Regions from separate parts of the Homo sapiens genome. Here regions 2, 3, 4, 5 and 6 are each linked to region 1. The links come from fine-mapping of genetic effects on gene expression. A gene starts in region 1. Each other region holds a variant in brackets. All regions are shown on one strand. Distances are from middle to middle.

Region 1 (4,090 bases):
TGAGTGAGTAGTGTTGGGGGTCTCTGATTCCTCAAAATCTGGTTTTAGCAGAAAACAGGGCCATGTTGATACTGGTACTCTCTACCACGTGCATGGGAGGAGGCAGTGAATTTGCTGTGAACTAGCCCTCCTTGCATTAGATTTTTTCCAGGGAACAGCCTGCTTGTCTTGGTATTCTCTTGGGGCTATTCCTTGCAAATCTGGAGCACTTCTTGGGGCACAGTTATTTTCTGGAGACAGTCATTAGCTCAAAGGTAGTCATGTGTGAATTGAGATCTGCTGCCTATTTAGCACCTGGATATATTTTTAAATATTCTGTCCTTCCAGGGCATTCTAGAAAATAATATTATGTTGGAATAACGATTTCCAGGGCAGATGCTATGTCCTCATCACCAAGGGCTTCATATGAAACATTGAGTCCTGGTACTCTTGGTACTGTCACTATATCTATCATTTGTTTTTGTTCATAGTCCGATCTTGGTTCTTGGCATGAGAGACATGCTTCCCTGCAGCACATCACCTTGGGCCACCTGCAGAAGGTGGCTGGACCATTCAGGTTCACCAAACCCAATCTGGAAAGAAGGCCAGTTAGTGCTGTGGTTACAGCTGAGCATTTGGTCACTGAAATCGTCTGGATGTTGCTGGATGGAAAAAGTTACTTAAGATCTTTGTGAGATGGTTGTCCTATTTTGTCCTTGGCACAAGCAGTCCTCTTACCCATGGTCATCGTTTCTGCAGGAAGAAAAAACAAAAAAATAATTTGGCTTTCATTCATACATTTTTTTTCTTTTTTTTTTTTTTTTGAGACAGAGTCTTGCTCTGTCACCCAGGCTGGAGTGCAGTGGCGCGATCTTGGCTCACTGCAACCTCCGCCTCCTGGGTTCAAGCAATTCTCCTGCCTCAGCCTCCCAAGTAGCTGGGATTACAGGTGCCCGCCGCCACACCTGGCTAATTTTTGTATTTTTAGTAGAGACAGGGTGTCACCATGTTGGCCAGGCTGGGCTCGAACTCCTGACCTTGTGATCTGCCTGCCTCGGCCTCCCAAAGTGGTGGGATTACAGGCGTGAGTCACTGTGCCTGGCCCATTCATACATTTTTAATGTGCACCAAACAAGTGCCAGGCATGGTAATAGATGCTGGGGATACTAAGCCCATAAGTAGGACACTCCCCCTGCTTTCAAAGGGCTCACAGATGGAGATATTATGATGTGAGAAGCTGCATAGAATACTGCAGGGGCAATGGGAAGGGAGAAAGTAACTTCAAAGGGATTGAGGAGGTCTATAGAGAGCATTCTGATTGATGAGTCTTGAGCTAAGCCATTTAGGCTGAAGAGGAATCCCTCTGGAAAGAAGAAGGGTCACTTGGGGTAGAGGAAAGAGACTGTGCAAAGGCAGAATGCAATAAAGGGCATGGTGCATTGAAGGAATCATCACAATTTGGTGTGACTGGACTGTAGTGTGAGGAATGAAGTGGTCGGAGGTAAGGCTGGTGATATGATTTAGTTGTGCCCCCACCCAAATCTCAACTTGAGTTGTACCTCCCAGACTTCCCACGTGTTGTGGGAAGGGACCCGGCAGGGGAGGTAATTGAATCATGGGGGCCGGTCTTCCCCGTGCTGTTCTTGTGATAGTGAATAAGTCTCACGAGATCTGATGGGTTTATCAGGGGTTTCTGCTTTTGCTTCTTCCTCATTTTCTCTTGCTGCTGCCATGTAAGAAGTGCCTTTTGCCTCCTGCCATGATTCTGAGGCCTCCCCAGCCATGTGGAACTGTAAGTCCAGTTAAACCTCTTTTTCTTCCCACTCTCGGATATGTCTTTGTCAGCAGCGTGAAAATGGACTAATACAGCTGGGATGGAAAGATGAGGTCTGAGTGGTGCAACATCATTCCTTGTTTCCGAGATGTGAAGGAGGGGCTCTCTTAAGGAAGCCCCAGACTTAGACTAGCAGTATCTCTTGTGTTTCACACTCAGCCCAGCATTCAACTTAATTTAAACTCAGGGCACCTTCCAGCACAGATTAAATGTAGTAATACTGTGGCCATAGAGAGAAAAAACTGAAGTGACTTCTATGGATATAGGAATAACAAAATTTACACGTAAACTATAAAAGAGTAGCAACCATTCTGACAATGAAATTTATGGACTTCATTTCAGAGATCAAAAGTTCACATGTGAGGCTATAACTTACTTAAGGAAAGTATTAAAAGCCAGTGTGTTCACTGCAAAGGGAAACCACGTTTGATTGTGACCCGTGGCTTTGAAGTGTGTGCATGTGTGTGGGCACACACACACATCTCTGGGAAAGGGGTCTTTGTTTCTGTGTCTAGGAAGAAAGACTGAATGATATTTGTCTTAATATTGTGGTTCAAATATCAGTTTGCCAGATCAGCTGCTACCCTGGAGCACCATCCAAATAGCTCTACTTTCGTTTTTTTTGAGATGGAGTCTTGCTCTGTCCCCAGGCTGGAGTGCAGTGGCGCAATCTCGACTCACTGCAAGCTCCACCTCCCGGGTTCATGCCATTCTCCTGCCTCAGCCTCCTGAGTAGCTGGGACTACAGGCGCCCGCCACCACGCCCGGCTAATTTTTTTTTTTTGTATTTTTAGTAGAGACGGGGTTTCACTGTGTTAGCCATGATGGTCTTGATCTCCTGACCTCGTGATCCGCCCGCCTCGGCCTCCCAAAGTACTGGGATTACAGGCGTGAGCCACCGCGCCTGGCCCCGAATAGCTCTACTTTCTAAGCCACCATCTACATCAGGCCCGTGGTTCCCTAGCCGCTCTTTCAACTGTGAAACCCATACCCATATCAGTTTGCCAATTCCTGAGTTCCTTCCCATCAGAGAAAGCAAATTGTTAACAGGCTCAGTGTCACCAATGAATGTGGTCTGGAATTAGTTGTGATGGTATCAGCCCATATTCCTTCATTTTTGGGTACTTATTGTATGCCAGGCACTGGGATATGGACTTTACAAGTTCTTAAAAGACCCCGTGGGGTTCTTTAATGGAGGATGCAGCGTTGTAGAGACACTAATTTGCACAAGGCCACACTGTGACTAAGTGTCAGAGCTGAGATTTAAACCCAAGACTTCCAATTTCAAAGTCCAAGCTTTAGCAATTATGTCAATTCCCTCTGTAGGTCCAGTCTACATTTCTGATGTATTAAAAGTACTTTATCTGCCTTGGCTTTCTAGACTCCCTAAATCTAGCCAGATGAGCTTCCTTTAAGAACCCTAGTCCAAACTAGTAGCATACAGCAGGTGCCACATCCCACTTATGGTTTCCTAGCTGCTTATCCCATTTCTCTGGATTCCCCCAGCTAGTGACATGCATATGTATCTTGTTTGCCCCCACAGTTCTGTGCACAACCTCATTTTTCCCTATTATGACCTAATTTTACCTCTTCATTTAAGCAGTTCCTTCAGAATGCTTTGGGTTTAGCTCTCCCAAAGTACCCAGCCTTAGGGACCACCTCTGTACCTGATTTCTTATGGCCTGTCTAAAGCCTGCTTAGAGGGCTAGGCTGCAACCTTAGCCAATTTTTTTTACCAGTCCCCATACCCAGGGATACCACTAGCATTGGCATTGTTGCCAATGGCCAAGTCATAGCACAGCTCCCACCTGAACTCCATAGCTGGGTTTTGCTCATTTGGTGAATTTCCTTGTGTGTGTAATTAGCCAGAATCAAGGTCAGCCTCTGGAAATACGGCGGTGCAGCCTACTGGTCTCCCCCTTCTTAAGGTGCAGCCCTTCACTTGGGTGAGTTTTCTGGGCTCTGAATCTTTTCCTCTTCTGGACAGCGCCACTAAGGTCCTAGAATGCTTGTGAGCTGGGACCAAGCCCACAAGATGACAGGATTAAGGAGTTTCAATACATCTGGTGTCGTGATAGGGTCATTGCTACCAGCAATATTGCAAGAAAAGCCTCTTGAAAACAAACTTATTCTAGGGAAAGTCAAGCATACAAGTCAGTTCTGAAAAAGTTGTCTCAGGAGAAGACATGAGTAAATTTTGCTGTTGTTGTTCAGCCCCCTTTTGTCTGGCTTCTGTTGGGGGAAGACTAGAAAATCTCAACCAAATCAAACAAAATA
Region 2 (4,090 bases), 23 kb before region 1:
CCCCCCACCAAAGCCTAACTAACCCCTCTGCCTGTGTTGACAATCCCTACATCTACTCATTTATTTGTTTTAATTGTTTAATTACTCACTGAAAACTATTTATTGAATAGACCCCATTCTAGGCACTGGAGACACAGCATTGAACATGAAACTGGGGTTCCAAGCTCTCATAGAGCTGACATTACAGATAGGGAGGTAGGAAATAACCTATGAGCCAATAAATGAACTAAATGGTTTCAAAATTATAAATGGTCTGAAAAAAATTATAGAGTAATAAGTGCTCCCAAACTCCTTTTGAGTTTTCCATCTCAGCATATTTCATACCAACCATTCGATGACCTAAGCCCAAAACCTGGGAAACATCCTGGACTCATCTCTCTCACTCATCATTTAGTTTTAATTAGCAGTCAGAAAGCCATGTGGATTCCAATTCTCAATGGCTCTCAAATCCACCTGTTCTCTGTCCCATGACACTTAATGCCAACACTATTACTTGTTGCCCAAATCATTGCAGCATTCCCTGACTGGTCTCCTCTCTCTAGTCTTAGCCTCTTCCTTCGTATCATGCCCTTGTTTAAAATTGCTCAATGGTTCTCTATAGTTTCTCCAGTGAGCTTCAACTTCCTTCATCTAGCATGCAAGGTCTCTCATTAACTGGGTCCTGCTGAGCTCTTCAACCTAGTTTCCCTACTGTCACCTCTCTAAAAAGCTTTCACTCAGCCATATTTGCGGGTCTACATGTCAAGGTGCTACAGTACCCTCATGCCTTTGGTATATTGTGCCCTGACTTGAAGTACCCTCTACTCATTCGTTTCTAACTTCTTTGTTCAAAACTGAGACCAAGTGTCACCTCATTTAGGAAGACCCTTTTCCTTATAGTGACCATGAAGTTCTTAGAAGGATTACATTGAGAAGGTATGTGAAACTTTTAGCACAATGATGGCACTCAGCTTATATGTCATTTCCCTGATGGAGGTTCTTGAATTGGAACAGACGTAATTAGCATGTAAATAAAGTCTTCCTATTTGCAATGAAAACATCTCAGAATACAAACCCTGAAGTGGGAGATTTGTCTCCCTCATTGTTTTAATGAAATAGACTCGGGCACAGAAAATTTTTCTTTGTCATTTGTGTGTTTATTGCCTGATACTGTTTATTATAATTTGAGCTGCTACACATTATTCTTAATGGCTTGGAAGTGATTCTGATGGATCACAAGATTAGACCACATCCCATGCATATCACCATCTCAGACAGCACACACAATAGTGATTCACTGCAGTTCCCATCCCTGAGGGTTGGCTGTTGCCATTTCCAATTTAAGACTGTTTCTTGGTACATTTGCAGATGCTATCTACAGCCTGGGTACTGGATGTAGAATCCACCAAACTGCTACTTTCCCTGAAAAAATCTGGGACCACACATCTCCACCAAACCAAGATTTATCAGGAGGTAGTCTCTTTGGGCTGACTTTTGGCACTATAGCCTTCACCATCTATGGAGGCTTTAGGCACTGTGTGTGAAAGAAAGAATGGCTTTGCGAGAATGGATTTCTCTTTGGACACCTGTTCTCTGTATAGCTTTCTCTCTCAGCAATGCACACAAAAGCACACCTCCAATTCTTACTCTCATTACTCTATGATGCTCCCTGACTGCTCTGAGTCTGTGTGTTTCTGAGCATAATAGTCCCTAGAAGGGCTAGGAAAAGATGCAGTTTTCTTACTTGCATTCAGCAGAGTCCGGATCTTTTTCTCTTCTTCAGCTTCTTGGAGCAACATTTCTGCCAGTGTCTTGTCCTCTGATTCGATGCACTCGTCAGCCTCTCGAAGGTATTGTATGTAGTCAATCTCCCGTTGGGCACGTTCAACTCTCAGTGCCAAGTTACCCACTGCACTCTTGTACTCACTTGTGTAGGTCTGACATCTTCCCAGCATGACAGATATATTTTTTGAGAACTCTTGGAATTCTTGAATGTATGCCCTCGTTGCTTGGGTACATTTTTCCAGCCCTTGCTTCAGTCAGAAAATAAATTTGCAAATTATTGCTTGTTATTTAAATTACCCAAATAATATAAATA[C/G]CTATCATTTATAGAAAAGGATTAGAAAATTACACATCATCAAATAGGGGAAAAATTGAAATCTCCCATAATTCCTAAATTCAAAGGTAGTATTGATACTTGAGTATATCAGTTTTTAAAAGTTTTCCCAAGCATTTAGTCATACATATGTAAATATATATTTTTAAAATGTGATTTTACTATATGTTTTGTATCATCTTTTTCACTTGCAGATATATTGTGAACATACTTTGATACTAATTAAAGTATACCTATACCATAACTTTAATGAGAGCATTCCATTTAATTGATATCCCATTATTTATTCTGTTAGACTCTTTTTGAGGTACATTTACATAGTTTTTAATTTTTTGTCATTCAAACAATGCTGAGAAAAAAACTTTTTATTTACATCTTCATCAGATTATTAAGGGAAAAAAAAACCTTTGTATTTACATCTTCATCAGATTATTTTAAGGTAGATTTCCAGAATATCCGTCCCTAGCACTTGGCACAGGGCCAAGCACATAATACTATTCAATAAATATTTGCTGAACAAAAGAATAAATGAATGGAAATGGGATTGCTTGGTCAAAGAGAATGTCTACTTAAAGCTCATTTGGCATGGTTTATCAAAATTCTATCCACAAATGTAAAAATGTATGCTCCAAACAACAATACGTAAGGCTGTTTATTTTGAAGGGAGAAAGACAGAAAGAGAGACCCAAAATAATTCCCTAAATCCCTACCCTCTTTTTTCCTACCCCTCCGACACTGGCTTCTCAGGCTGGGAATGCTATCACTGTATTGTTAAGTGTCTGCGCTGGCCAACAGTGACTGCCACCTGCGACTTGGCTTCACCTCAGGTCAGGACTGGGGTGGGAAGATCTATACAGATCATATCCTTGTCTTTTTCAAATCCACATTCATAGCTATAAAAGGATCAGTCTGTACTTCATACCCTTGACAAGTTCTTAAGGTAGTGAAAGACAATTTGCAGGGATTTGGCTGGCTTTACTCCCAAGGCAAGTCGGTGCTAAATGCAGAGGGATCCTGACTGAGCATCATTCTGGCACTTCTAAGGAGGTGAGGCTCAGGAGGGAGCAAGTGAAGAAGCGCAAGAGGCCGCTCGTCTGGGAACACTTCATCCACTGCCTCCAGGCCCCAGCCTGTTGGCTGGACGCCCTTAGGAAATGCATTCGGCCTGCTATGTGGAATTACTTTACCCTGACTATAACTAGAAGAACATATAATTTGGACATGAAGATTTTTCAGGAAAATGTATAAAATAATTATTAGCAATAAGAGGGTCTTTGAAAGAAGATAAATAATTTATCAATTTAGCTTGTACAAAAGCAAGCCATTAAGTATGAATAATCAATGCCAGGGTGTGGCAAAGGCTAGGGTGGAGGGTTACATTTGTCCCTGGGAGCCTGTCCAGGCTGCCAAAATGTTGGGTTTTGCACATTTTAATGAGGTGGCAGCCCAAATGCATTCTTTCTGTTTAACTTGGCTGAAATCTGCTCACTTCTAAGTCTAAATCCAGTTCAGCAAAAGAAACTAAGACTTCTCAGTACATTGATATCATGACTTTTTACAGTGACCTAATGGTTTATCATAAAAGACAAAACGAAAAGCTGAAATCCATTATCAGCCTGAAACACTAAAACATGAAGAAAAAGTAACCAACATTTTTAAGTTTCATATTTTAAAAAATGAACTATGGTGAATAATAACATTTTAGATACATACCATTATGCCAGGCAGTATTTTAGCTATGGATTAAATCTTCAGGATAGCCTTACAACATAAATTCTACTATTATCCCCATTTTACAGATGAGACAAACTGCCAAATCAGAGCACAAAGTGCAACTGTGCTTAAGGTCTGGAAGTAGCACACTGGACTCTGGAGTTCGGCTCTAAACTGCCAGACTATGAGCATTTTAAAGTGTAACTTTGGCAATGTGTCATTTGCTATCTGGGAAAAATACAACCCAGTAGATAGAGAAGCATGGGTAAAAATAAGGTACTT
Region 3 (4,090 bases), 23 kb after region 1:
TCCGTAATTATCTCTCCAAGGAGCCCCAGCAGCTGTAATTACTGTCTGAGGCCAAAATTATAAACCAGCTGTAGTTTTAAGCAAAATACATTGCAGCCTCCACTGGATCATTGAAGAAAAGTCGGTCACGACCAGCACAGAGGCCCACTAGGACCCATCAAAAAGGGAGCACAGCCCTTGAAGAAGTTCATTCCCAAACCTCAGGGAATATGTTCTGGCAGCATTGTTCTACATCCTGGTGCCTCACTGTCACTGCACGCTGCTCTCTCCTTGCAGCTGGAAACCCTTCTTCCTCCCCTAGGAAGATTTCTCAGACCTGTCAGTTCATACTGATCTCTCACCCTGAGGATTAGAGAGCAGGCTGAGCAAAAAGAGGCACTATTAAATCTCAGCCCAGGGAGGATGGAGGAGCCCTCATCGACCTGCAGGTAGACTGGCAGTCTCACTACAACTCAGAGTCTGTACCCTTTTTGTAGCCAATAGGCCAAATTAGGTTCTAAATCTACTTCTATAGTAACTGGAATGTTACTTCTATAGTAAACTGGAATGGCTGCTTCCACTGATCAAATGAATCCAATCATGACCAAATTCTCTATAGAAGCTAAGCTCTTGCCTGAATAGTTATGCAAAATCCATGCATTCATTCAACAACCGTCACAGAATTATGGAGTACCTCCTATGTGCCAGGTACTATGTGAAGGATTGGGTATACAATGGCAAATAGAGCAGATATGGCTCCTGCACTATTGGACTGTGGCTCTTGAATTATCCTTCACTTGACTTGGAACCTGCCAACAGTCCTGTCTGGGACATTAGGATCTGCATCTGGAGATGAGGTGGTGGGTAGAAGAGAGTTTCAGGATGAAGTGGGCATGCTGAAGGTGAAGAACGGAGCACATGAGCTGCTGATTTCAGCTGAGCTGGCTGGAGACACTGGCCTTGGCTCCCAGGAGCCTTGTCTGCTGCGCAGCCTCTTTCATGCATTCAGCACTTCCTGAGGTGCCTACCATGTGCACGGGCTGTGCTCTCTGTGGTTCACTCCTTCTACCCCCTAAAACATGGACCCCATGCCCTATCCTTGCTGTGTGGAGCTCTTGCTAGGTATGACTAAGACAGAATACAGTACCAGGTAACACCATAACTGTTATTAAACAATCTAATTATTTTCTTATGTCTATTTCCTCAGCCAGATTGTAAATTCTGTGGGGGATGGGACCAGCATTTCCCCATTATACCTCAGTGCCAGGTAGGGTGCTTTGCACTTGCTCAGAAATATTCGGTTTAAAATAAATTCTCCAACTCCACTTCCAAAGGGGAGGCCAGGGGATTCCTTTTCAGGTGAACATGTTAGGCAGTCGGGTCTGCAGAACAATGAGCAAATCTAGACTTCCACAAGGGCACACCAGAATCCACTCATTCCCATTCAAAAAGTCCTCTCTCTCATTCTCATTCCTTCTTTCATTCTCATTCTCATTCATTCATTATCTCTCTCTCTCTCTGCTTTTCTCCCTCTCTCTCATTTTCCTCACTAGACTGTGTACTCCTGGAAGGCAGGCGCCATGTGTTTTTATCACTGAATCCTCAGTGTCTGGACATCGCGTGGTACACAGGGCCCCTAAATACTTTTTTTTT[G/TG]AATGGATGTATCAATGAACCCATCAGAGTCCTGAAGAGTTACCTGCAGTGATGTCAATGGCCAGGGGAGGGCAGCAAAGGGCAGCAGAGCTGATGGCAGAGGCCCTAGGAAAGGCCTACTGCTCTTTGAGAGACAGATGCTTGTCATTGGGTCAAGGAACCCATTACCCATGTGAGTATTTGGAGATATTGAGAGCCCCAGGACTGGAGAAAACGGCTGACAGGAATCCAGAGAAGCCCAGTGTCATAAAGGAGGGGGACCAATTTGAGTGGGGAGCTGCAGAAGTGGGTGCCCAGTGCTGGGGGTGAAGGTGTGTGGAAAGAGGAGCTGAAATCCCGATTCCCAGCAAGATAGTCTAGAGTCACAGTGTTGGCAGCACGAGTCCTGTGCTGAGCTCTCTGGGACTCCAAACATGCCTGAAGGGCTTTGCCTCTCTGGTTCTTGAAATGACAAGTGTTCCGAAAGACGGGTCTGACACCATCCTCCACCCTGGTTTGCGCTGCAGAAGAGTGGGAGGAGAGAGCCAAAAGCAGGCCACAGCTGTATGTGTGTGGAGACGTGTTCTCCAGCCCCTCTTCGAGTCCCACCACAGGGGTGGGAAATGGCAGCGTTGGGTCTGTAGAGGAAAAGCTCCTCCCCTCAGCCATTTTCACTGAGAGCAGAGCGTTGATGGCATGTGCAGAGACATGGCAGGAGGCGGTGGGGTTCCTGGGATCATCTCTTATCTGGAGAGTTTCTCAGTGGGCGCTGCTGGTCTGGCAAGCTTTGAGATTCAGATTTCGTTTGCTGCCCTGTGGTGTCTGTGCTGGCTTGAGCTTTTTGGAATAGGCTACAAAATGGTTTGCTCCCAGGAGGTGGATAATGGAGTGCAGAGTTGTCATGAGAAGAAACAGGGTGCCTGTGGGGGAGAGTCATAGCTGGAAGGTTGGCTGGGTATTGCCAGGGGAGAAGGGGATGGTGTTTTTCTTGGTGTCCCAGAAGAAGGGATCCATCTCCAGGGCTGAACCTGTTGGGCCCACACAGTCCCATTCCTTTTGCCAGTGACTGCTTCAAAAATTGGCATACTTCTGGCCATGATGTGTAAGGAGCCAGTTTGCTGGGCACTTGAATAATTTTTTCCTTGCTCTTAACAGAGAGCTACAAGAAGTGCGTTTTCCTGTGGCTACTTTCATGTCTGGATGCAATGCCTAGACCTGCATCCATCTTGCGACCAACCTGAAGATGAACAGAAAGGAAGGAAGGATGGCCCAATAGCCTGGGAAGAACTGGTGTTCCTGATACCATCATTAACCACAGAATCTACAATCCCGGAACCCCCCATCCTTAACCATGGAATCTACAATCCTATCTCTAGACCCTTTGTCCAGATGCTACAGTTTCTTTGTTCAATCTAGTTTGTGTCAGGATTTCTGTTCATTACATCAAAAGTATTCTAATACTTGTAGCAAAGCAACTGGAGAAGTTTTCACTTTGTCTTTAACCAAAGAAGACTTCCAGGAAACATCTCCTCAGTGGGTTTCTCCCTCACCACTGGATTTTTATCTCTGTACTAGTGCTTTGATTTGTTTTAGGAGTCTCACCTCTCCACCTGTCATATTTCCCTGGCAGGCTCATTTCTGCTAATGCCCACAATATGTGTATCAATGAGCTTTCAACGTTAGGTACACAGCTCTTCAGGCATGTATAGCACATTAATCTGTCTGCTTCTAAGTGGTCTGTTGACATGTTTGGGTGCCAGTTATATCTACAAGGCTGTGATCATTGTCCTGGGTTATTCTGTTTGTTCTCTCTGCAGGATGCATTAGGACACCCAAGGCCATGGCCATCACTTACATCTAGGATTCAATCTTATCTCCTGTGAATCACTGGAAACCTCCTGTCCTGGAACCCTTTTTTTCCACATCCCACTGGATGTCATTCATAGCAACTGGTCTTGTGGGTTGTCTATTTTATTGTGTTGTCTTACTCTTCCTCCTGGTATCAGTTTTTAAATCCTCTTGATGAGATCAGCTGATCAGTCGCTAAGCAACATAGTCCCCCATGTCTTTGTAAGATTCTCTGCACTCATGGCTAGAATGATTTATTCTGGTATCTTAAGCTGTGTTTCAGAACCTCATTCTAAATATCAACCTATTCTTGTAAGTCCACTACTGATCATCTTTAGATATTCTTCAGTCTTCCAGAGTTCCAAAGGGCAGTAGGAAGAAGCAATGAAAATACCACCTGTATTCTCACATCTTTCATTGTTCCACTCAAAAAATACCACCATGTTCACTTCTGGTGGAACGTTTATGTCCATGAGAAGCAGTGGCTTTGAAGAGTTTTGGCAGACTATGGCGCCTTACTCAACATTGGGAAGGTATCTTGCCATCAGACCTTTTGGGTCTCCATGAAACTTCTTATACCCCCTCTGGGAAAAGTCACTAACTGTGATCTTACTGAGCTTCTAAACACAGC
Region 4 (4,090 bases), 35 kb after region 1:
CAATTCAACATGAGATTTGGGCAGGGACAAATATTTAAACTATATAATTCCACCCCAGCCCCTCCCAAATCTCATGTTCTTCCCATATTGCAAAATACAACCATGTGTTCCCAATAATCCCCCAAAGTCTTAGGTCATTCCAGCATTAATTCAGAAGTTCAAAGTCCAAAGTCTCATCTGAGACAAGGTAAGTGCCTTCTACCCATGAGCCTGTAATATAAAAAATCAAGTCATTTACTTCTAAGATACAATAGAGGTACAAGCATTGGATAAACATTCCCACTCCAAAAGGGAGAAATTGACCAAAAGAAAGGGGCTAGAGGCTCCATGCAAGTTTTAAACCCTGCAGGGCAGTCATTAAATATATATATATATATATATATATATATATATATATATATATATATGTATATATATTTTTTTTTTTTTTTTTTTTTTTTTTTTTTTTTTTTGAGATGGAGTCTCACTCTTGTTGCCCAGGGTGGAGTGCAATGGCACAATCTCAGCTCACTGCAGCCTCTGCCTCCCACGTTCAAGCTATTCTCCTGCCTCAGCCTCCCGAGTAGCTGGGATTGAAGGCACCTGCCACCATGCCCAGCTAATTTTTGTATTTTTAGTAGAGACAGGGTTTCACCATGTTGTCCAGGCTGGTCTCGAACTCCTGACCTCAACTGATCCACCTGCCTTGGCCTCCCAAAGTGCTGGGATTACAGGCGTGAGCCACCATGCCCGATTGTTGTTAAATCTTAAAGCTCCAAAATAATCCTTGACTCTATGTCCCATATCCAGGACACACTGGTGCAAAGGGTGGGCCCCCAAGGCCTTGGGCAGCTCTGCCCCTATGGTTTTGCAGGGTTGGCCCCCAGGGATGCTCTCGTGAGCTAGGGTTGAATACCTGTGGCTTTTCCAGGCACAGGGTGCAAGCTGTCAGTGGATCTACCATTCTGAGGTCTGGGGGCTGGTGGCCCCCTTCTCATAGTTCCCTTAGACACTGCCCCTGTGGGGACTCTGTGTGGGACCTCCAATCCCACATTTTCCCTTAGCACTGCCCTAGTAGAGGTTCTCTGGGAGGGCTCAACCCCTGCAGCAGGCTTCTTCCTGGGCACTCAGGCTTTCTCATACACCCTCTGAAATCCAGGCAGAAGCTGCTAAACCTTCACTCTGGTACCCACAGTTAAGCACCTGCAGGCTTAATGCCACATGGAAGCTGCCCAAGCTTATGGCTTGCATTCTCTTAAGTAGCAGCTGGAGGTGGACCTGGGCCCCTTTGAGCCATGGCTAGAGCTGGAGCAGTAGGGATGTGGGGAGCAGTGTCCTGAGGCTGCACAGGGCCGTGGGGCCCTGGTCCTGGCCCACAAAACCATTCATCACTCTTAGGCCTCTGAACCTGTAATGAGAGGGGCTGCTGCCAAGGTCTCCGAAATGCCTTTGAGGTCTTTTTCCCATTGTCTTGGATGTTAGCACCTGGCTCCCTTTTAGTTATGCCAATATCTCTAGCAAGTGGTTCCTCCACAGCTTGCTTGAATTTCTGTCTTGAAAAGCTTTTTCTTTTACTGCCACACGGTAGGCTGCAAATTTTCCAAACTTTTACACTCTGCTTCTTGTTTAAATATAAGTTCCAACTTTAAGTCATTTCTTAGGCTGTCAGAAGCAGCCAGGCCACATCTGGAATGCTTTGCTGCTTAGAAATTTCTTCTGCCAGATACTCTAGATCATCACTCTCATGTGCAAACTCCCACAAATCCCTA[A/G]GGTATGGACACAATACAACCGAGTTCTTTGCTAAAGCATAACAAAGATGACCTTTGCTCTTGTTCCCAATAAGAGCCTCATTTCCATCTGAGGTCTCATCAGTCTGGACTTCACTGTCCATATTACTATCAGCATATTGGTCACAACCATTTAACCAGTCCCTAAGAGAGTTCCAAACTTTCTCTCATCTTTCTGTCTTCTTGTAAGCCCTCCAAACTCTTCCAACCTTTGTCCATTACCCAATTCCAAAGCTGCTCCCACATTTTCAAGTATCTTTATTGCAATACCCCACTTCACTTCTGGTACTGCTTTTCTTGCATTGCTATAAAGAAATACCTGGGACTGGGCAATTTATAAAGAAAGGAGGTTTAATTGGCTTATAGTTCTTCAGGCTGTACCAAAAGCATGGTACTGACATCTGCTTGGTTTCTGGTGGGGCCTCAGGAAGTTTTTACTCATGGCAGAAGGCAAAGGAGGAGCCAGCATCTCACTTGGCAGAGCAGAAGCAAGGCAGGGTGGAAGGTGCCACACACTTTTAAATGACCAGATCTTGCAAGAACTCACTATCAAGAGGACCGCACCAAGCCATGATGGATATGACCCAAGCACCTCCCATCAGGCCCCACCTCCAACATTGGGGATTACAATTCAACATGAGGTTTGGGCAGGGACAAATATTTAAACCATATTAATTGGTTTTATGACCGCTCTTTAGTAAACTTTACTAATATGAACACTTACTATTAATATGTAAAGCATCTAAGCACACACCATTCAGATCCTAAGCTATGAAGGAAAAAATCACCCTATTGTTTTCCTGCCTTATTCATAACTGCTTCTGTTTCTGACAATTTGAGTATAACTCATCATAGTGTACCATATACCTAAAAGTTACAATTGCATTATATAATTTCTCAATGAATGGTAAAGTTCCCCTTGCTTTATAGAAACCCTCTTTTCTTTATTTCAAGCATTTTGATTATCAATATCATCACATTTTACATCCTGAATTTTATCTAAGGTGCGAAAAAAATATGTAATTCTACCACCAATGACTGAAGACTTTAAATATACATTTGAGTTTTACATAAAAATAGATAACGTAGAAATAAAAATAATACTAGAATTGCTAAAATTATTGTGTTAAAAGAGTGTAGATCTTCATTTTTGCTGTAAATAAATGAATTGCAGTACATCACATAAGACATTGAAGGGAAAGGACAGCTATGTGACTGATCTTCACTCCTGAGGAACTGTGCCTTTATCAGCTCAAGGGAGTGATCATAAAATGAAGAGCTTCCCACAGGCCCTGAGACTCCATGTAGAATTTGAATAACATATAAATGCAAAAGGAAAATAGTTTTTTTCTTAACCTTATATAATATTTGTATGTCACTGAGAGTCAAGTGTCCCTCTTTTCACCATGCTTGTTTTAACACACAAGTTAATTATCTGAACATTAATAATTTGCTCCATTAGGAAAACTTTAATGGGAGTCTACTGTGGGCCACACACTTTGTTAGGTATTGGACATACCGCAGTGAGCCAGGCAGAAGAGCTGATCTCGCGACAGCTTTGGGAATGGTTCTCTTCACTCCCAAAGAACACCAACTGGGGCAGTGTGAGTGTTCACCTGTATCCTAAATAAGATGTTTTTCATTTCAAATAAAATAAATTCTGCTTAATATTGCTTACACAACCAAGGGAATATATACGTTTACATACTTATAAAGGCCAGAGGTAACACTATGTTTGGGAGAGGTTTGATTTAGGAGCTCAACCACATGACTGAGAATCTGGTTTCTTTGTATCTATGGGCTTGGTTTCTCCCTAAACCTGGATCTTCTATAGAGATCCAAAGAAGCCACAGCTGCTCCCAGGGTATATAGTGCTTTGTTTATATCCAACAAGAAAGAGAGAGCATCTTTGTCCAAACATTCACACCAAATGTTTTATAATACTCTTGGACTGAATCAGCGTATGCAGTGGTAATCCTTATGGTTAGCTTGACAGGTTTAGCCTGGAACTGTCATATGTACCATCACCAGAGACAAGGATGGAGCCAGGCTCCCTAGAATCATTAATCAGAAATCAGGGCCATCAGAAAAGGGGCTTGATGCTGGAGAGGCAACTAATAAATATTCACTCTGTCGGTGTATGGGTGCCCACAGGACTGGGCAGGATCTTTTGTGAGGTTCCCTTCTGCTTTTTGTTGCTGGAGTGTGAGTACTAAAACCACCTATTCCAACACAGACCCTCCATTAATTTGGCTGTACTATTCTATTGTCTTCATTACTACAACTTAAGTATTCACTCATGGGACTTCCCAATTTCTATTCCT
Region 5 (4,090 bases), 9.5 kb after region 1:
AAAGGAAGCTTGATTGATTCTTACTTGAACAGAATTCTTACAATACAGCAAATGATGCCATACAGTGAAGCACCTTGAAAGATTGCTGGGATAAGCTGACAGCATGGCAGCCAAAATAGTGACCCCAGGCTTGCAGGAATTCTGTGCTTTCTGGAGGAAATGGTCATGGGTTTCCCAACCTGCCTTTTAAACTAAGGTAAGTCTCTTATAAAGACCTTTATGAGAACTGTTTGAGCCCTCATGACACTGCAAATCCATCTGAGATGATGACTGGGACCTTCACTGCCACTGTCTTCATTCTCATGGGTGTTGCCTGGCTCTTTGGCATTCAGAGCTAGCTCTCAGTTGCTTTGGTGCATTAATAGAACCACTATGCCTGTAGATTTGAAGAAAAATTGACATGGAGAATTTATCTAAGAAATCAGTAAGTAAAACTTGTAAAAATCATTTTACAAGTTGTAAGATAGAAGAAATTGAAATTCTGTCCAACAAGAACTTATTCAATGCTGACTTTGTGCCAGGCATTTTGCCAGGTGCTTGTTATACAATGATGAATAACACTTAGGCCCATTCTCAAGGAGCAGTGGGAGGTGCTGGGGATGACACACACACAGATAATATCAAGTGGCACCAAATGCTATGTCAGGGGCAGGCACAGGGTGCTAGGAGAGGATAGCACAGACGAGAAGCATTTAGCTCATACCACAGGATCTTCAGAATGCTTCCTGAAGAAGCTGACAACTGATTAGATGCTAAAAAGACAGGCTGGATCTAGGCAGGAAAAGAGGGGTTGAAAGGACAGCACAAGAAAAAGTTAAAGCAGAAGCAAGGGCATGGGGGTGAATAGAAAGCACTGTGTGAACCACCAGCCATTAGGTGTGGCCCCAACATAAAGTATAAGGAGGAGATGGAGGCAGGGTCGCAGAGGACCTTGAATGCCAAGGTAGGGAACTCGATCTTGATCTTGTTCAGAATGAAGGGCAGTTATTGAAGGATTTTTAAGTGGGAGAGTTACATGCTCAGATTTGTACTTTAGTACTTGAAGGAGTGTAGAGGTTGGATTGAAAACAAATAAGAGAGTCAGAAAACCAGAATTGAGTGATAGTATGGGATCAGCTGAAGCACCCCTCTTGCCTTGACAGATCTCACTGAGCCTGGCCCTGTGGAATTACTGGTGAGTGAGGATGGGAAGGAGGTCGTTGCCTTTAGCACTTGAGAACTCTAGGTGGCTGGTCCCAAAACAGGACGGGGCTGTTTAAATTTAGCATTTCCTGAATAGGGACCAATGGAGTTCTGAAAAAATAAGTCAAAAATATAAATACCAAAGAGATAATGAATGAAGAGTCATATATTTATCACCCACTCTCAACTGACCCTAAACTTTAGTGAACAATAAAATGGACATTAGATCTGTTCACCTGTGAACTTGATTTCAGGATATCACCATTACCACTTATGGAGGGTGGCCATTTTCTGGCTAAAGAGCAAGATCCCAAGGTCCTCTAGCTCTCATTTGCCTGACATGGGGAAGACACTGGAGGGAGGTGTAACCAGCCTGCTGCATGTGCAGGCAGCTTGCCTCTCTCCTCTGGGTGCCTCCACCCACTGTGAGGAGCTGTGTGCAGACTGTACCTTGTTTTAATCCTCCCTTGAGTACTTACACACTGACCAGCCCCCTCCTGCCTCCTGACTATTGCATACTGGAAACTTCTCCATGATCAGAGAGCAAAAGCTCAATTGCCATGTTTAGTAAAAGGTCTGCAGTAAGTCCAAATCAACTAAAAATAGTCAATTTAGTGGGTACTGACAGACCCTATGCCCCAGACCTAAAGAGTTCACATCAGGAGAGAAGACAGATGTATCCAACTAACTACAAAATAAAAATGAGAGGTGGTAAGTGGTAAATGTATAATCAAATACAATCTAAATACAATCAAACTATTAAGGGAGTACTTCATTCCAAATGGGGCATTGCTCACTAGAAACTTCATGGAGGAGGTGGCACCTAAAATGAACCC[T/G]GAGGATTATGTAGGACTTTTAGACAGTGGGTGACTTCCTTCTTGGGCACCTGCTGGGATCAGCCCCATCTGACTGGATGGTGATACTTGCTTTAGCAGACATGACCCAGGGAAAGGCCATTTTTGCCCAGAATTTACACAGGTCACAAAGAGCAGCTGTAGAATGCATAGCCTATTGTGATACCATGAGGGACTAAGTACCAACCCCATGAAGTCCTCAAGCAGGGGCCTTCACCCCTTTCCCAGGACCTTCACGTTCTCCTTTCTTTCTCCAATGGTGATTTACAGATGTGTTTTTCTGTATTTGGGAAAAAGTCTCAGAATTAGCTTAAATGAGCCAGGGACAATGGCTCATGTCTAAATCCCAGAACTTTGGGAGGCCGAGGTGGGTGGATCACTTGGATCCAGGAGTACAGGACCAGCCTGGGCAACATGGTAAAACCCCATCTCTACAAAAAAAAAAAATACAAAAATTAACCAGGCGTGGTGGCGGGTGCCTGTAGTCCCAGCTACTTGGGAGGCTGAGGTAGGAGAATCGCTTGAGCCCAGGAGGCAGAGGCTGCAGTGAGCCGAGATGGCGCCACTGCAGTCCAGCCTGGATGACAGAGCAAGAATCTGTCTCAAAAAAAAAAAAAAAAATAGCTTAAACATTGGAATGTTGTATGGAATATACACATCTAATAGGTTGAATAGAACTTCATTTTGAAAAGTCAATTAAATGTGTGCTAATTTTAGAAAATGTATTGTCTTGCAGCTTGCTTTTTTTTTCTCAGTGAAAGAGACAGAAACAAAGGCCCTTAAATGTGTTTGAAAAGAGGATACAAGATAAGAAACTTTCTTTTATCCTTAAAGGTTTAGAGGCTTTTATTGATATGTTATTAATAATATTAAGATTTTTGGCACTATTCCAACTATTAGCTTTTCATCTCAAAGATACTCACAATGTCAAAACAAATAAAACCTATTAGCTGAATTCGTTTTCTCTCATCTGTGTATCTGCTGTCCTCTATACACTGTGGCTGATAGTAGGCCACGGCATGTATCTCTCAGCCATGCTGTTAGCATTGGGCCTTTGTGTGACTTAGAAACAGAAGCCTCCTCCAGGCAAACTCACCACTTGGTGAGTGGAGAGAAAGCTGACTTTGAGCTGACTTTAGCTTCACACATCTCCTCATCCTGGCACCCTAGTGAAGAAACCACCTGCAAGACAGTGTGTTGGGGTGCTGGGGAAACAGCTCTTTGGGGAGGTATCAGGGGCCTTAGGTTATTAAAGGTAATGCCCAGGTCCAATCTCAGAATGAGAGGCTGTGTTATTCTGCATAACAATGTAAAATGTGTTCCCCGTAGGCAGTTTCCTATTGGCAGAGACAATTATGATATTAGATGGATGTTTCTTTCCCTGGCTATAGAATTTTTAATTTCAGTTACTCGCATTGTCTTCACTCGTGTTATCCCCAGCCCTTAGGAAATCTTCATTAAATGCTATAGTCTGGCATTTGCATGCTTTGGGGGAATGGGGAAAGGGACTGTGTCCGTGCTTGGGATAGGATGTGGGGATAGGGCAGGGAGAAGATGGTGGCTGGGAGAAGCAGCTGAAGGCCTCTAAAGATGGCTGTAGAGAAGCCTGGAGTGCAGCAGAGAGCGGAAATGGTAAGCATCATCTGGAATCATGAGATGCAAAAAAGACCATTCCTCAGGCCACTGCAGAGACAAATGGGAGGAAGACATCAACTAAGGGCTAGAGAGAAAGGGTGGGGACTCAGGGTATTTGAGTATTAAAATGAAGGGTGATTCTGGGAGCTGGAGGCTTGGACTCTCATCAAGGGCTGGAAATCAGGTAGGTAGCAAGGAAAGGAAAGAAAAGTGACTGGGGAGCAGCAATGTCAGAAAAGGGGCGACTCACCTGGACTTAGGGATTGGTATCCTGCCCTGTGGGGAAGCTGAGCCCTCTTGGCCAGCTGGGAGCCTCTGGCCTGTCAAACAAGAGGAGACCACAGAGGGTGCCTGCTGAAGGAGACTGGGCTTAAGGCCTCTTCCCTGGTGCTCCTGAGGAGGGCGACTGAGATCTGAAC
Region 6 (4,090 bases), 14 kb before region 1:
CAAATTGAGGCAAGGAAACCAGACCTTGGCACTCCCGCATCAAGCAGTCATTGGATGAAAGCTGTGCCCAAGGAGGGAGAGTAGATAATCTTGAGTGAGGCACTTTTCTTTGGATGAGGGCAATTCCTGGAAAGGGACTCAGCTGTGAGTTGTTAATAGTTTGCACAGCTGGGAAATGAATGTCCTCCTAAAGAGTAAATTTGGGAGATGCATCAGTGTCTACTTCAGTAGGTTAGGCAGAAGCCAGACCTTGCCAAGTTTGTAGGACATGCCAAACATTTTAGGTGTATGGTAAGAACAGTGAGACAGCAATTAGAGTTTCAAGTGAATAACACATAAATAGATGTGTGTTTACAGAGGTCTCTCTTGAGGCCAGGTGAAGGACGGATTGGAGGGCAAGACTAAATTCAAGGTGGGAGATGGATTAGGAGGCTGTGAGAATAATCTGAAAAGAGAATGATGAGGGCCAGAACTAGAGTTGTGACAGTGGAGAGAGAGCTAACTGGTTGCCTCTGAGAAATATTTAGAATGTAGAATTGCCAGAGCTTGGTTAGTGATTGAATGAGAGGCAAGAGAGGGAGTCAGGTTGATGGCCAGATCCTGTGTTGTTTACAACAGGCTCCCTTCTGACCCCTTCAAGTCTAGTGTCAGCATTGTAGCCAGAGTGAGGGAGCCAGTATGCAAACCTCATTGTGTAATTTCCCTGCTTAGGAGCCTTGATTGTCTGCCAATTCCTTCCCAAGAACATGTAGATTTCTCAGGCTCAGGGAAGTCTTTGCAACTACATCTAAGCTAAGATCTATAACGTGAGTAATCAATAGGCAAAGGAGGAGGGAGTATGTGTTACATTCCTTATGGAGGGAGACACACACAGACAGCCCTTTAAAGGTTGCTCTGAGGCCGAGGCAGGAGGATTGATTGAGCCCAGGAGTTTGATATCATCCTGAGCAACAAAGTGAGACCCCATCACTATGAAAAATCACAAAATTAGCTGGGCATGGTGGCATGAGCCTGTGGTCCCAGCTACTTTGGGAAGCTGAGATAGGAGGATTGCTTGAGCTGGGGAGGTAGAAGCTACAGTGGACTGTGTTCGCACCACTGCACTCCAGCCTGGGAGAAAGAGTGAGACCCTATCTCAACAAAAACAAAAAAACAAAACAAACAAAAAAAGTAGCTCTGACCAGCGAGGCTCCCTGTAAGCATTGAACATTGAGCATTGCCTCTTCCAGTTCCAATCTCGGCCGCCTGCTTTTTTTGCAATGTATCTCCTACTCAGTTTTGCAGCCCTGTTTGATCGCCCTTGCCTAGACTAACACCTGAACCAACGGTACTTTTCTTCTTGGCCTGGGCTTATGTCTGCCTCCAGAACTGGCCCTTTATATAATTCATCCCTCCCCCACCTTGCAACCAGGTTGTATTACCTGATGGCCTCTTTGAAAGACACCTGGAAGTTTGCATGGATGCACGTAAGTTCCTCAGCCCTATTATTGGGGCCCACTTAATAGATTTTAGTACAGACCCCAAATCATATATTTTTGAGGGGCTCAATTGTCTCTAGCCCTTAGCAAACTGGAGAGATTTGAGGTGATTTCTCTAGTTCAGCCTATCCCACATACCTGTGAAGACAAGGCTCTTGGTAATGTTATATTTACAAACCATGCGATACTGTGGATGTGTCATCTCATTTCTCTATGAGACAGTCCTCATAAATAAATTTTCAGAAAACATGAGATTCCTTTTCCCTTGGGAAAATGCCAAAACATTTTTTATACTTGACTTTAGCCAAAAGGTCAAAAAGTGATGCCAAAACATTTTTTAACTTTAAATATTTTAATGGAAATCTTCCCAAGCGTGTTTCAAACTTACTTTTTCAAAGTCATTTCTTAATGTCGTAAGATGACCATATGGATATCAGCTATTGTATCATGTATAGGGACCTTTCAGAGATTATTAAGTATATAGAAATGTCTGCCTTGGTACTTACTGGCTAAG[G/A]AAAACTAGGGATTTTGAGTTCCTGTGTCTGTTGTTATATTTTCTGTCTCCCTTTCCCTGTCTCTGTCCAATCTTTGTAAATAAAGGAAGCTAATTCTCATGCTAAGACTCTGAGCAGATGAAAAAGCCCTGTTTGGCATTAGGTTTAGACTTATGCTTCAGAAATCATTTGAGGCTGCCCCCTATTTTGCTCACTCAGCTGCTCTCTGTCTCTCTCCTGGGATCATAACCTGTTTCCATGACTTGCCTTGGCTCTCCTGTGTAGCAGGATCTAGAACTGGATGTGGGTTTGTTATTCTGCTTCACTTCAGCCCCTTCCAGATCATGGCCCCTGGACTGTCTCCTCCAAGTTCATGGGTCTTAGCAATGAGTAGGGGACACACCACCTCATGACTCCAGTAGAGACCTGTGGGACCCACTGGGATAGGCAGGGGTGGATGTTTGACTACACGCTCTCTTGGAAGTCTCTATTCTCTTCATCTCTGGGTTTTTCCCAACACTTTCTGCAGCTCACTGCAAGCTCTGTCATGCATTTGCATCCAAGGGAAGAACAGAAGTTTGACAGAGAAGGTTGGAAAGGACTTTTCAGGGTATGAGGATCATCTTGTTTCTTCTTAGTCCGTAAAGAGTTTTTTTTTCCCGACTATCAAAATCATATTATAATCCACATGAAATCTGAGAGGCCCTTCCACCATTTAAGAGGAAATCATCTTCTTTCCACCTTCCCCCATCACACAGAGACAGTAAAAGATGAACCTAAACCCTCTAGACTCCATGGTGACTGTCCAGGGAGACCTTGGTAAGGACCATCACACCTCCCAAATGCAGACCACTTGGGGTGAGGGAGAGGGCACTGAATGAAGAAGGGCAGGCCTCAAATACCAAATTAATTGTTACAAATTTCAGAGTTAGTATCTGTCAGTCTGTATGAAAATCAGAGCTAGGGTCCTTAGGAGTCTGGTTTTATTGAAAGTAAAGAATAAGAATGGTTTTAATAAGTGTGCCAACTTATGGCTACATGTCTTTATTGACTTCTTGAGCCAAAGTGCTATGAAAATTAGAAGACATGGCTCTGCCTTTCAGGAACTTACAATTACTAGAACACACACACACTCAGAAAATAGTGTAAGAGAATCCAGTTGTGAGGTCACATGAGTGAGAGGTGCTGAGTGGGCATGAAGCAGTGTTCTTTCTTAAGTACTATAATGTTCTCCCAGATATATTCATTTGCTTATTGTCTACTCTTGTCTTTCCAAATCTTTGGGTTATGTAAAAGAGAAAGATGTGAGAGTGGAGTTATAGGGAGCAATCTGTGGAATTTCATGACTAAATTCTGCTTCAGGTTGGAATAAAAGGAATAGATGTATTGAAGAAGGAGTTTAAATTCGATATTAAGAACAGTTTTCTGACTGAGAAGTTTTGGGCAAGAGGATGTTGAAGCAAGTGAACATTTTTCTAGTGGATAATGATATATATTTGGGGAATCATTTAAAAATCTTCAATTAATTGTGTTAGGGAGTCAGGAGAGAGCCCTCTAGAAGGCCCCGTAAAACTAGGGGCTGATAACATTGTTTACATTGACGGTCAAAAATGACAGTCATAAGTAAATACTTGTGATATCTCCAATTCTTGTCAGATATACATTTAGTTACCTTCTATCTCCACACACAGTTTGCTGTGTCACCAACGTAGTCTGTCCAGACTACTATAACGAAATACCATAGACTGGGTGGCTTAAACAACAAATGTTTATTTCTGACTGTTCTGGAGGCTGGGAAGACCAAGATGAAGGTGCTGGCAGATTTGGTGAGGACCTTTGTCCTGGCTTTCAGATGGCAGACTTCTGACTATATTCTCACATGGTGGAGAGAGAGGGGGTTCTAGTCTATTCTGCTTCCTATGATTTGACATAAGTGAGAAGTTCCCCAAAATGCAACCTTTTCCCCCATTCCCTCTTCCTCCTCCTCCTTCCTCCTCCTCCAATCTCTTCTTCCTCTTCTCCTTCTCCTTCCTCCTCCTCCTCCTCTTCCCTCCTTCTTCTTCTTCCTTCTTCTTCAATGTGGAGCCTCACTATGTTGCCCAGGTTTGAATGCAGTGG

The links.
Region 2: its variant is fine-mapped to the expression of SYT9-AS1 in whole blood (TOPMed, PIP above 0.99).
Region 3: its variant is fine-mapped to the expression of SYT9-AS1 in whole blood (INTERVAL, PIP 0.99).
Region 4: its variant is fine-mapped to the expression of SYT9-AS1 in whole blood (TOPMed, PIP 0.97).
Region 5: its variant is fine-mapped to the expression of SYT9-AS1 in whole blood (TOPMed, PIP above 0.99).
Region 6: its variant is fine-mapped to the expression of SYT9-AS1 in whole blood (TOPMed, PIP 0.98).

Annotation. Positions count from the first base shown.
Region 1 is chr11:7,463,434-7,467,523 of GRCh38, reverse strand. It overlaps SYT9-AS1 (SYT9 antisense RNA 1), which reads left to right and starts at 1,689. Exons shown (of 5, transcript NR_103855.1): 1 at 1,689-1,771. SYT9 (synaptotagmin 9) reads right to left here. Exons shown (of 7, transcript NM_175733.4): 7 at 1-732. The coding sequence ends at 724.
Region 2 is chr11:7,486,049-7,490,138 of GRCh38, reverse strand. It overlaps OLFML1 (olfactomedin like 1), which reads right to left. Exons shown (of 3, transcript NM_198474.4): 2 at 1,724-2,012. Among named protein-coding and RNA genes, the nearest start is that of OLFML1, 2.6 kb to the right of the region's middle. The variant C/G (reference allele first, on the strand shown) is at 2,078.
Region 3 is chr11:7,440,396-7,444,485 of GRCh38, reverse strand. All of the region lies in intron 6 of SYT9 (synaptotagmin 9), which reads right to left. It overlaps SYT9-AS1 (SYT9 antisense RNA 1), which reads left to right. Exons shown (of 5, transcript NR_103855.1): 5 at 2,767-4,090. Among named protein-coding and RNA genes, the nearest start is that of SYT9-AS1, 23 kb to the left of the region's middle. RefSeq lists an enhancer at 1,596-1,645 and a silencer at 1,614-1,908. The variant G/TG (reference allele first, on the strand shown) is at 1,633.
Region 4 is chr11:7,428,910-7,432,999 of GRCh38, reverse strand. All of the region lies in intron 6 of SYT9 (synaptotagmin 9), which reads right to left. Among named protein-coding and RNA genes, the nearest start is that of SYT9-AS1, 35 kb to the left of the region's middle. The variant A/G (reference allele first, on the strand shown) is at 1,749.
Region 5 is chr11:7,453,902-7,457,991 of GRCh38, reverse strand. The region is part of intron 6 of SYT9 (synaptotagmin 9); the gene reads right to left. SYT9-AS1 (SYT9 antisense RNA 1) reads left to right here. Exons shown (of 5, transcript NR_103855.1): 3 at 33-196. Among named protein-coding and RNA genes, the nearest start is that of SYT9-AS1, 9.9 kb to the left of the region's middle. The variant T/G (reference allele first, on the strand shown) is at 2,019.
Region 6 is chr11:7,476,955-7,481,044 of GRCh38, reverse strand. No RefSeq gene overlaps it. Among named protein-coding and RNA genes, the nearest start is that of OLFML1, 6.5 kb to the left of the region's middle. The variant G/A (reference allele first, on the strand shown) is at 1,993.